Linked DNA regions of Homo sapiens: region 2 is linked to region 1. Evidence: fine-mapped QTL for protein levels in blood plasma. A gene starts in region 1. The other region holds a variant in brackets. All regions are shown on one strand. Distances are from middle to middle.

The links. PIP is the posterior inclusion probability: the model's chance that the variant is causal. Protein levels are from antibody-based Olink assays in UK Biobank. Linkage for the fine-mapping came from a reference panel and not from the study's own genotypes, which makes the PIPs less certain.
Region 2: its variant is fine-mapped to the plasma level of the PTGDS protein (UK Biobank, PIP above 0.99).

Annotation. Positions count from the first base shown.
Region 1 is chr9:136,973,793-136,981,956 of GRCh38, forward strand. It overlaps PTGDS (prostaglandin D2 synthase), which reads left to right and starts at 3,712. Exons shown (of 7, transcript NM_000954.6): 1 at 3,712-3,900; 2 at 5,201-5,340; 3 at 5,431-5,507; 4 at 6,154-6,270; 5 at 6,391-6,492; 6 at 7,041-7,063; 7 at 7,787-7,950. The coding sequence starts at 3,787. The coding sequence ends at 7,063. It also overlaps LOC124902312. RefSeq lists an enhancer at 4,772-5,751.
Region 2 is chr9:137,236,196-137,238,499 of GRCh38, forward strand. SLC34A3 (solute carrier family 34 member 3) reads left to right here. Exons shown (of 13, transcript NM_001177316.2): 13 at 1-360. The coding sequence ends at 221. Among named protein-coding and RNA genes, the nearest start is that of TUBB4B, 3.9 kb to the right of the region's middle. RefSeq lists silencers at 168-497, 518-747. The variant GGGAGGGCTCT/G (reference allele first, on the strand shown) is at 261.

The DNA.
Region 1 (8,164 bases):
CGGGTGTGGTGTTGGGGGTTGGGCCGCCCCCTCCTCCCGGCCCTGCTACCTTTGGGATGCGGCAGCCTCTGACCAGCCTGCTGGACCCCACATTGGACAGATCGTTCAGCACCCCCAAATTGCCATCTGTCCCCCACAGACAGCCAGCCTAGCCCTGGCTCCAAAGCTGCAGAATTGGCTGAGGCTTGGCCATAACCGTCTTTGGACCCCATGGCCAGCAATGCACATATGAGCCTCAAGTCCCAGGGACATATCTGCTCCCCTATCCTCTGGCTTGTCCCGGGCTGCCCTGTCCTCTGCGCCGTCCCCGGCTGCTGGGCGGGCCTGACCTCCAGGGTGGTGCTGGGAGAGGTGGCCAGAGGCAGCCAGAAAGGGTGAGCGGAGAGGTGGCCGTCCCCCATGTCAGTGAACACCCAAACAGACAGGCACAGAGAGGAGGGCTGGGTGAAGAGTGGGTCCCATGTGCTTTGAGCAGCTCAGAGATGCCCTGAGGAGGGGCTGTCCCACGTGGCCCGTCCACTCAGGCCTCCTTCAATCACAGAGCAGCTCCCTTGACGCAGGGAGGCCTTGGGGAGAATTTCTTGCCCCTAGAGGAGCCCTGAGCTGCCCCCACCGCACCCGGCCCTGGTCTCCCCGGCTACAATCTCAGGGGTGCTCCTGCTCTGCCCCTGACTTGTCCAGAACACTCCACAGCGTCTCAGTGATCCCGGGCACTGCCCTTCCCTATGGAAGATCCTCAGCGGGGCAGCTCTGGCAGGAGTGAGCCTCTGGGGCCGTGAGGCTTGGGTACCTCTGAAAGGTGGGGTGTAGAGGCTGCCCCTCCCCAGTCCCAGGCTGGGGGAGTTGATCCCAGGCTGCAGGTGGGTGGGGCTCACGAGGTCCCCATGAGTTTATTTGAGGCTGGTGGACACTCAGTCGAGCTCAGCTCCCACCAGTCACTGGGACAGCCTCGGCCCTCAAGGGCAAACCATTGGTGGGGATGCTGGACAGGGTCATCACTGCCCCCGGAGGATGCTGGCCGGGGCCCCAGGGTGGAGACAGCTTCCCTCCAGGAAAAGGTTGGGGTCAGTTCTGGGAGCTTAGGCCCAGGCCACCAGGCTTGTCCATGACCTGCCTGGGCCGCAGGCAGGGGGATGGCCTTGGTGACCTCTTAGGGTGGAGGCCAAGTCTTTGCATTTTGTGACTCAAAGAGACTGGTTCCCAGAGAGCAGGGTGGGGCGGCCAGCCTTCTTCCTGCCCAGCCCTCCGCCAGGCTCCACTAAGGTCCTGCCTGGCAGCCAAGCTCAGAGCAAAGGGAAGGGCACAGAGAGTGTGCAGGGTGGTCCTTGTCCCTGCCCAAGCTGCAAGAGGCTCTGCGAAGGTCCCTCCTGCCCCTGTCCACCTTGCACAGTCCTAGCCGGGGGAGGAGGGGAGAAATCTGGCGTGCCAGGAGCTGGCAACTGCCCAGCCCTTCCTGGATGTGGTGAGAGATGAATCTCCAGCCCTCGGGTGGGCCCAGGTGCACCCATGAATCAGGGCTCGTGGGCAGCTCCCACTCACTGGTCCTCACTCAGCCGTGTCTGGGGAGTGTCTCTGACCACCTGCTGGCCATCTTGACCACAGGGACTGAGGAGTCCGTCCTGAACCGAAGCATGATCCTGTTAGCTCTTCCAGCTCTCCAGGCGCCAACGACCATATGGTCTCGGTAACGACTGGTCAGGGAGGAGAAGGGACATGGGACCTGCTGGGCTTTCTGCAGCCCACTAGAAAATGGGGAAGAGGAGGGGCTTGGTCCCTGTTCCAGGCACTGGGTTTGAGGGCTGGACACCCGAGATCCCTGGGAACCCCTCTGGCTATGGGAGGACCCGGCCCCATCAGACTTCAGAGTCCCTCCCTGGCAGGTGACCCAGGCCTGCCCAGACGGAAGCCATTCAGACCCAGAGCCACGTGTCCTGGGTCTCCCTGCCCCGGGCCACCCGCCACCACACCCCAGAGCTTGCTCACCACCGGGAGGCGCTCTTGTCCTGGACCAGCCTAGCCTGGGTTGGGACCTCCAGCCAGGCCAGTCAGCGAGCCACCAGCCCCACCAGAGTGGAATGACAGCCAGGACTCAGCTGGCAGCGGGCAGGAGGCCAGTCTTGTGGTGATATCCCAGCCGCAACTCTCTTCCTGCCCCTCCCCTGTCCTGACGGCAGCCCCCAGCTCTGTAGCTGAGCCAGGCTTGCGGGCCACGCGGGGTCCCGGGTTTAGGCACCCCACCCCTATCTGTTCCAACAGACTCTCCCTCTCAGCCCATGGCACAGATGGCATCTGAGCTAGCAGCACGCTGCTGCTTCAGGCAGGGGTTGATAGGAGGTCCAGGTGGAGGAGTGGGTTCTCAGGACTGCCTTGGCCCCCCTGCACCGCTGCCCTCCTTCTCCCTGCCTCTCAGGTGCCTCCCGGCTCCCTGGGACTCACTCCCTCACCTTGGCCTCTGCCTGGGATGCTACCCGGCCACCCCCACCAGCCCTGACACCAGTGCTGCCCACTAGCCCCTGCTGCTACATAGGCATGCGCCTCCCCCAGTCTGGGCTCCTTGACCCCCGGGCACTGGGGAAGGGGAACAAGGAAGCAGTCCACACCAGCCCACTCCCAGGGCTCGTGCGCCCCCAGCAAGGGATGGGCCACAGAATCCAGGAAGAAGACGGGCTCCGGCCCCCAGTGGTCGCCAGCAGCCCCGTAGAAGCTCACCACCCCACCCCATCCGACTCACTCCTGCTCTCATGTACATTTCCCAGCTCCCCACCCGGGCTCACCTTCAGACCAGCGGCAGCGCTCACCCACCACGCCTGCCAGGGAAGCTCAGTCCCAACAGAATCCAGAGAGGGCCCACCACATGTGCCTGCCTGTGACGGCCTGTGACAGGGCCCCAGCCAGGGCCAACGAGCTGGAGGGGCCCAAGGAGCTGGGTGCAGCGCTGGGGTAACAGGACAGCCCCACGGGGTGCTCCCGAGTCTGGACCAGACTCGGGGTGGGGAGGCCCAGACTCGGCGGGGGGCAGACTTGGGGTGGGGGGATTGCTGGGGGAAGTTGGGGCCTCTGGCAAGGGATAGGGCCTGTGCTCAAGCCCAAAGGTGCCCCAGGCTGAAATGGGCACCCAGGGGTCACTATCAGAGCCCCAACAGCTGGCCATGGGGGAAGCCATGCCCAGCAAACCTGGCCCTCGGGACCCTGCGGGCCAGATCAAGTTTCTCTACCTTGGCCTGAGCTTCTCATCAACACTTCACTTGCTGGGCGTTTCAGGACCAAACTCTCAGGGTGGAAGTGGGGCTTGTGTCCCCTTCTGGGGTGGCAGGGCTCGGAAAGGGAATGATGGTAGGGGCTGTGAGATGTGGGTCCTGGCCCCCAGTGGGAAGTCACCAGAGGCCTCGGAGGCGGGCATGGCTGAGGAACACAGCCCCTGCCCTATCAGGGCCGCTGGGTTGGTGGGCCCTGCCAGCAGGAGGAGGGTGGGCAAGGTCCCTGCCAGCTCTGTCTCTGGGACCAGTGGGCAGGGGCCTCTGCCTCACCCCCACGCTGCCTCAGCTGGGGCAGCAGGCCCAGGCCTCTTGCATAAGCGCCCTGTGGGGGACGAGGCTGCAGCTGTGCCTGGCCACCCCATCCCCCAGCATCACGAGTGTTCAGTGGGCTGTCCCCGGGCCCTGGGTGGAGGCCAAGCCTGGCCCATAAATAGGGGTCTCCTCAGTGCCCTCCGCTCCTCCTGCACACCTCCCTCGCTCTCCCACACCACTGGCACCAGGCCCCGGACACCCGCTCTGCTGCAGGAGAATGGCTACTCATCACACACTGTGGATGGGACTGGCCCTGCTGGGGGTGCTGGGCGACCTGCAGGCAGCACCGGAGGCCCAGGTCTCCGTGCAGCCCAACTTCCAGCAGGACAAGGTGAGGGGCTTTCCTGCGTCATCCCCAAGGGCTACAGGACCCTGTCAGGGGAAGGGCACTTTCCGGCTGGGTCTTCCCCCTGGGAGGAGTGAGCGAAGTCCCGCAGTGCCGGGCAGTGCCGGCCAGGGACTGAGCGGGCGCGCAGGAAGGAGGCTGGGTAGCCGCCCGAGGAGGCTGCCCGCGAGAAGCCCTCCCTGGGCACCGCGTCCCGTCTCCCCTGATGGGCCACGCAGACACCGGGCCACACACGCGCCCACGCCAGCCAGACACGTCCACCCCTGTGGGCACGCGACCCCCAGAGGACACACGAGCGCACGTTCCACACCTGGGTGCCAGGACACGGGCGGGTGGGGCACAGGGATGGCGACAAACACTCCGTGCGCGGTGGGGGTTGGGAGGGACGCGCACCGCACAGACAGCCGGCGACGCGCGCTCTCGCCCGGGAGCTGCTCGGGGAAGCGCCGGAGCGCGGGTCCCCGCGCCGCGCGCCCCTCCCTGGCGTCGAGGAGAACCCCAGCGGTCCGCAGAGCTGAGCCGAAGACCCGCCCCGATCCCCGCCAGGAATGCGACGTCCTCTGCCGCCCGCTGTATGGGCCAGGCGCTCAGCCAGGGCACAGAATCGGGACCGGGGGCGGAGGGGCCGAAGCTGGCTGGTGGGCGGCGTGCGAGGGTGAGGGACTGTCCTCGGGAGGGGCGTGGCCAGACGGGGGTGCTGGGTGTCAGGGGCGTGGCCAGCTTCTGGGGCTGAGGCGTGAGGGGCGGGGCCATCTCCGGGGGAGGGGGAAGTGGGGCGTGGTCATCTCCTGGGGCGGGGCGTGAGGGGCGGGGCCACCTCCCGGGGCGGGGCGGGGGCCTGATGGGCGTGGTCAGCTCCTGGGGCGGGGACGTGAGGGGCGGGGTCAGCTCCTAGGGGGGCATGGGGCGTGAGGGGCGCGGTCAGTTCCCTGGTTGTGGACATGAAGGGCGGGGCCAGCTCTTGGGGCGGGGTCGTGAGGGGCGTGGTCAGCTCCTGGGGCGGGGATGTGAGGGGCGGGGTCATCTCCTGGGGCGGGGATGTGAGGGGCGTGGTCAGCTCCTGGGGCGGAGATGTGAGGGGCGGGGTCATCTCCTGGGGCGGGGATTGAGGGGCGGGGGTCAGTTCCTGGGGCGGGGCGTGAGGGGCGTGGCTGCTCGGGGGATTGGGCGTGGGGGCGGGGCCGGGTTGGAGACCGGAGGAGTAGACGGCAGAGGCGCCCCCGCAGGTAGGCGCAGGTGGGTCCGGAGGGTCCTGGCCGACGCGGGTGGGGGTCGCTCGCCGCAGTTCCTGGGGCGCTGGTTCAGCGCGGGCCTCGCCTCCAACTCGAGCTGGCTCCGGGAGAAGAAGGCGGCGTTGTCCATGTGCAAGTCTGTGGTGGCCCCTGCCACGGATGGTGGCCTCAACCTGACCTCCACCTTCCTCAGGTGGGACAGCGGGCAGGTGGGTTTCTGGGACGGAGAGGTCCAGGGACACCCTCGGGCCTAACCCCTGACCCTGAGGTCACCCACCTACAGGAAAAACCAGTGTGAGACCCGAACCATGCTGCTGCAGCCCGCGGGGTCCCTCGGCTCCTACAGCTACCGGAGTCCCCGTGAGTGGGGCCTCCACCGGCCCCCTGGGCCCAGCCTGGGGGCGACACTTGCCGGGACGACTCTGGGCCAGCCCCCTGCCGCGGAGATCCATGGGGTGGGAGGTGATGGCTGCCCCACCAGCGTCAGAGGCAAAGGCCAGGCCTGGGCGTGACTACCCATGCACAAGTGTTAGGGACAGAGAGACCCTTCCTCCAGGGGGTTGGATCCTCTCTGGAGCCCACCATTGTCTTGTCAGGCCCCTTCCCTGCCCTCTGGAGTTTTCCCCACATAAGCAGCCCCCCAAGGCCCCTCCATATGCCTCCTCCCAATTCTCCTCCCCAGGACCCAGGGGTTTCCTCACTCCCACCTGGGGAATGGCTCCCACGGGGAAACCTCTTCACTTCCGGTTCTGGCAGCGACTTCTGCGGCTGCACCAGGAATCCTGGTTTTCTGAGCCTGGCTCCCCCAGATTCTGGTTTGGGGACAGGGTTCACAGGCTGTGCAGGCGAGAGCAGGGCACTGGCTGGAGAGCAGCCGGGTGGGGGAGCATCCCGGGCCAGCCGAGGGGCTGAGTGCCCCCAAAGCCCACAGGTGCACCCCTTCCCTGAAGCAGAGGTGAGGTTTGGGGGGCTGAGTCCCCGACAGGGTTGTCTCTTGGGTTCCCAGACTGGGGCAGCACCTACTCCGTGTCAGTGGTGGAGACCGACTACGACCAGTACGCGCTGCTGTACAGCCAGGGCAGCAAGGGCCCTGGCGAGGACTTCCGCATGGCCACCCTCTACAGTACGTGCCCCGTGGACGCCGCCCACACGCAGGCCTGACCAGAGGGGGCTCCCCAAGACCCAGGGCAGGGCACACAGCATCCCCCCCGCTGAGGCCAGCTCCGTCTCCACCCTGTCCCAGGCCGAACCCAGACCCCCAGGGCTGAGTTAAAGGAGAAATTCACCGCCTTCTGCAAGGCCCAGGGCTTCACAGAGGATACCATTGTCTTCCTGCCCCAAACCGGTGAGGGGTCCTAATCTGATGGGGAGAGGATCAAGGTCAGATTAGAGGCAGGCAGGCAGTCTCCTGACTGGGGGAGGCAGAGGGGAGGAGGTGGCCCCGCCCTGCTCGAGGCCTGGGCCAGGGACAGAGGGGGTGAGTGTTCAAGTCAGAACCTCCCTCCCGCAGCCCCTTCATGAGGAGCCCCCTCCATGGGGGACATGGAGACCAGGCGCCCACTCTGTGCCAGGCCCCAGCAGCTCCCAGGATGTGGGGCTTCAGCCTGGTGGGGGGCATAGGGTAGAGGGTGCCCATGGGGGATACAGGGGAACCAACCATACTGGGCTCAGGCACAGCCTCCTAGGGGTGGACAGCCTGCTCTTGGCAGAGGTGGAGAAAGACCCTCTCTTTGTTTCCAGTGCCCAGGGAGAGGTGGGAGGTGATGGGGGATCTGTGCAGTTTGGGGGCTCAGTCAAGACGAGCTCTGCGTTACGGGAGGAACAGGAAGCCCAGTGGGAAAATTGGCCTAAGTCTGGGGTTCTGACGACAGCCCCTGGCTTCTTTCTTGGCAGATAAGTGCATGACGGAACAATAGGTGAGCCACTCCATTCATTCATTCATTCATTCATTCATTCATTCATTCAACACACATCCACCCAACCCACTCTGCGATGGGATGGATCAGGGCCCCAGGACAGCCTGGTGCTGCAGACCCATCCTTCCCGATGGCTGCAGTCCAGGGCCGGGCGGGAGACACTGGGGCTGCCCACATTGATGGGTGCACAGGTGTGAGGCTCAGAAGGAAAACCTGTCCCAGTGGCTGGAACAGGGCTGACTCCTGAAGGCTCATGGTTGGGGGGTGCAGGTGCGAGGCCCCAGGCAGACAAGGCCAAGGGGCTATACCACAGGGACCACCTGGCAGCAAGGGTGTCTGGCTCCTGGGCTAGGAGGAAACCAGGGTGGGGGAGACAGGATGGGAGGGAACAGGGGATGGAAGGGGAGGGCCAAGGACGCTACATGGATGCCGTGGGACAGCTCGGAGAGCAGGCTCAGGGCGGATTCACCCACCACCCCCAGGAGGGAGGCCTAGGCTGGAGCTGGAGTCTGTGGACCCTGGGGCTGGGAAGGGTGGAGTCTGTAGACCCTGGGGCAGCGGGGATCCAAGCCCCAGGGATGGATCTTGCTCTCTCAGCGGGGCTCAGTGGGGCTGGGGGCAGAGAAAAGTCCCCGTAGCCCGCACCTGCTCCATCGACTGGAGTGGAGGTGGGCTGGGGTAGACTGCAGTCCTCCATCCTAGCCTTTCGGTCACACCCCTCAGGACTCCCCAGGGCTGAAGCTGGGATCCCGGCCAGCCAGGTGACCCCCACGCTCTGGATGTCTCTGCTCTGTTCCTTCCCCGAGCCCCTGCCCCGGCTCCCCGCCAAAGCAACCCTGCCCACTCAGGCTTCATCCTGCACAATAAACTCCGGAAGCAAGTCAGTAGAGCTGGCTCCTGGCTGTCTGCGCTGTCATCACCCGTCCTGGGCCTGGCCCTGGCCACCCGGACCTCCCCCTCTAAAATCTCAGCCTGACGTCAACAAAGGAACAGGCCCTCTAGTGTTTGCTCCCAGTGGGGTCTTGAGTCAGGACAGCTAGGAGGGGGTGTCCCTCACTGTCTCCCACCCACCCCACACAGTCGTGTGCCCCTGCCCCACAG
Region 2 (2,304 bases), 260 kb after region 1:
TCGTCATCCTGGTTACTGTCCTGCAGCGGCGCCGGCCGGCCTGGCTGCCTGTCCGCCTGCGCTCCTGGGCCTGGCTCCCCGTCTGGCTCCATTCTCTGGAGCCCTGGGACCGCCTGGTGACCCGCTGCTGCCCCTGCAACGTCTGCAGCCCCCCGAAGGCCACCACCAAAGAGGCCTACTGCTACGAGAACCCTGAGATCTTGGCCTCCCAGCAGTTGTGACGGGCAGTTGCTGAGCAGACCGCCCCACCCTCCCCGGCT[GGGAGGGCTCT/G]GGAGGGCCCTGGAGGGGGGGTCCCCGCGGCAGCTGACCTCCGGTCACCTGCTTCCCCTTCTGTGCAAATAAACCAGGCTGTTATCTGGGGTGGCGGTCCTCACTCCCCTAGACAGGGGCCGCCTGCGCAGGTGGGGGAAGCAGCCCGATGCTGCCTCCTGGTGGACACTCCGGGGCCTGGGGCTCAGGCACAGGAGCCCGCCCACCCCAAGGTGTGTTTCTCACGGCAGCCGCTGGGGACAGAAGCTCCCAAGGAATGGCGGGCCTGGGGGGGCGGGGACTTCCCACAGTGGGAGCTGGGGCCCCTCCTGGGGGCGCAGGGGAGAGCCCAGCCAGCAGGGAGCAGGGCCGGTGGTGCAGGGTGTGGGGGATCCCGGAGCTCCTCTGCCCCGGCGGATGTCATGGTTGGGGTGGGGACTGGAGTCCCATCAGGTGCGTGGGGTGTGAGAAGGGACCCTGACGGCTTGGAGGGCCAGGTGGTCCCAGAGGCACCACCTGTCTGTCTGCCCTCTGTGTCTCTCAGCCGGTCCTGGGCTGGGCCCCTCGGGGACACTTCTCTGCAGGGCTGGGCCACGGCAGGTGCTCAGCTCCCAGAACCCACCAGGAAGCCAGTCTCACCCGCCAGGCTGGGGCACACTGAGGCCTCCCACTGCCACGGAGAATGAGACCCTGTCCCGGGAAGGCCTGTCCGTGGGGTGGGCCCAGGAGGGCGGACAGCACCCATGGGGAGGACTTGGGGGCCAGGGGGCCCTCCCTCTGCTGTGTGGTCGGGTTTCCACACAGGAAGGCTTGTCTGCCAGCCAATGGGTAACTGGACACCTAGGAAGTTGAGGGGGGGCTCCTGCCACCTCTAGCCCAGAGCTGCCCACAGCCCTAACCCAACCCCCACTCCCGCCAAGGGAAGAAAGCCTTGGGTTACCCCAGAACTGGAGCATTCATTCAGGCACACAGAGACGGGTGGGTGAGGGGACGGTCCCATCAGGGACAGGTCTAGTTTGCTCATTTGAGTCTGCTGCTGTGGCCAGTCACGTTCTCCCTTCCAGAACTGCAGCCCTGTTGGGGGGCAGCTCTCTTCCCAGAGCCTCCCAGGATTGCCTGGTCAGACCCCACTAGGGGATAGAGGTGCAGCCACTCAGGAAGATGAGGCCTGAGGGGGCCCCACGGCCACTTCTCCTCTGTGGCTCTGTTCTTTTCTGCCCTCAGTTTCCCTTTGCCCCTGCTCATGACCCCCAGACCCTCTGTGCCCTTGGCCCCCAGTCTTCCCTGGGTCCTCTGCCCCAGCCACCCCTCAAACTCTTAGGCCTCCTGGGCCTTGGTTTCACCTACCGAGGGAGGTGACCACCTGCTCTGGGAGCCAGGGGTGCCTCAGGGGTGGGCTCCAGTGAGAATGGGACCCCCAGCAGCTAGAGCTTTGGTTCTCACAGCCCTGTGATTCTAGGACGCCCCTGTGGACCTGACATCAGCCTCATAGAACCGTCTGGCACCCCTGTAGGGGACAAGCCTGGCTAGCTCCCTGGGGAGCCTGAGGGGCCGGGGAGCTCCCCTGTCCTTTGGGGGGGGATCAGTGAGGCCCTTGTGGAGAGAGGGAGGAAGCACCCCATGCACCTGTCCTTCCAGGGCAGGTGAGGCCTCCCACAAAGGCTGGGCGTCTGGTCCTTTAAGGCAGCCAATACTGTCTGCCTGCTGTCCCTGCCTGGCGGTAACACACCCTCCCACTGGGACCATGGCCACCAGTAAACAGAGCCTTCGTTGTGGATCCTCCGACAGCTGCAGGAGGAGGAGGGCAGGTGCCCAGCACTCCCACAGCCACGCCTGCCCCGCTTCCCTGCCCTTCTGGCCCTCCTTGGACCACATCCTGCCTGGCCACAGACCCCAGGCCCAGGAGTTGGTCCTCCTGCCCCACACTATCCCGCCTCTCCATCCTGCAGCAGGGCACCTTGGCTCAGGGTGGGACCTACAGAGCCTTCCCCAACCAGTTTTGTGCAACAGGGGTGGCTGCTGTCCTTGTTGGGCTCAGGCCCAGGCTTCAGGGTG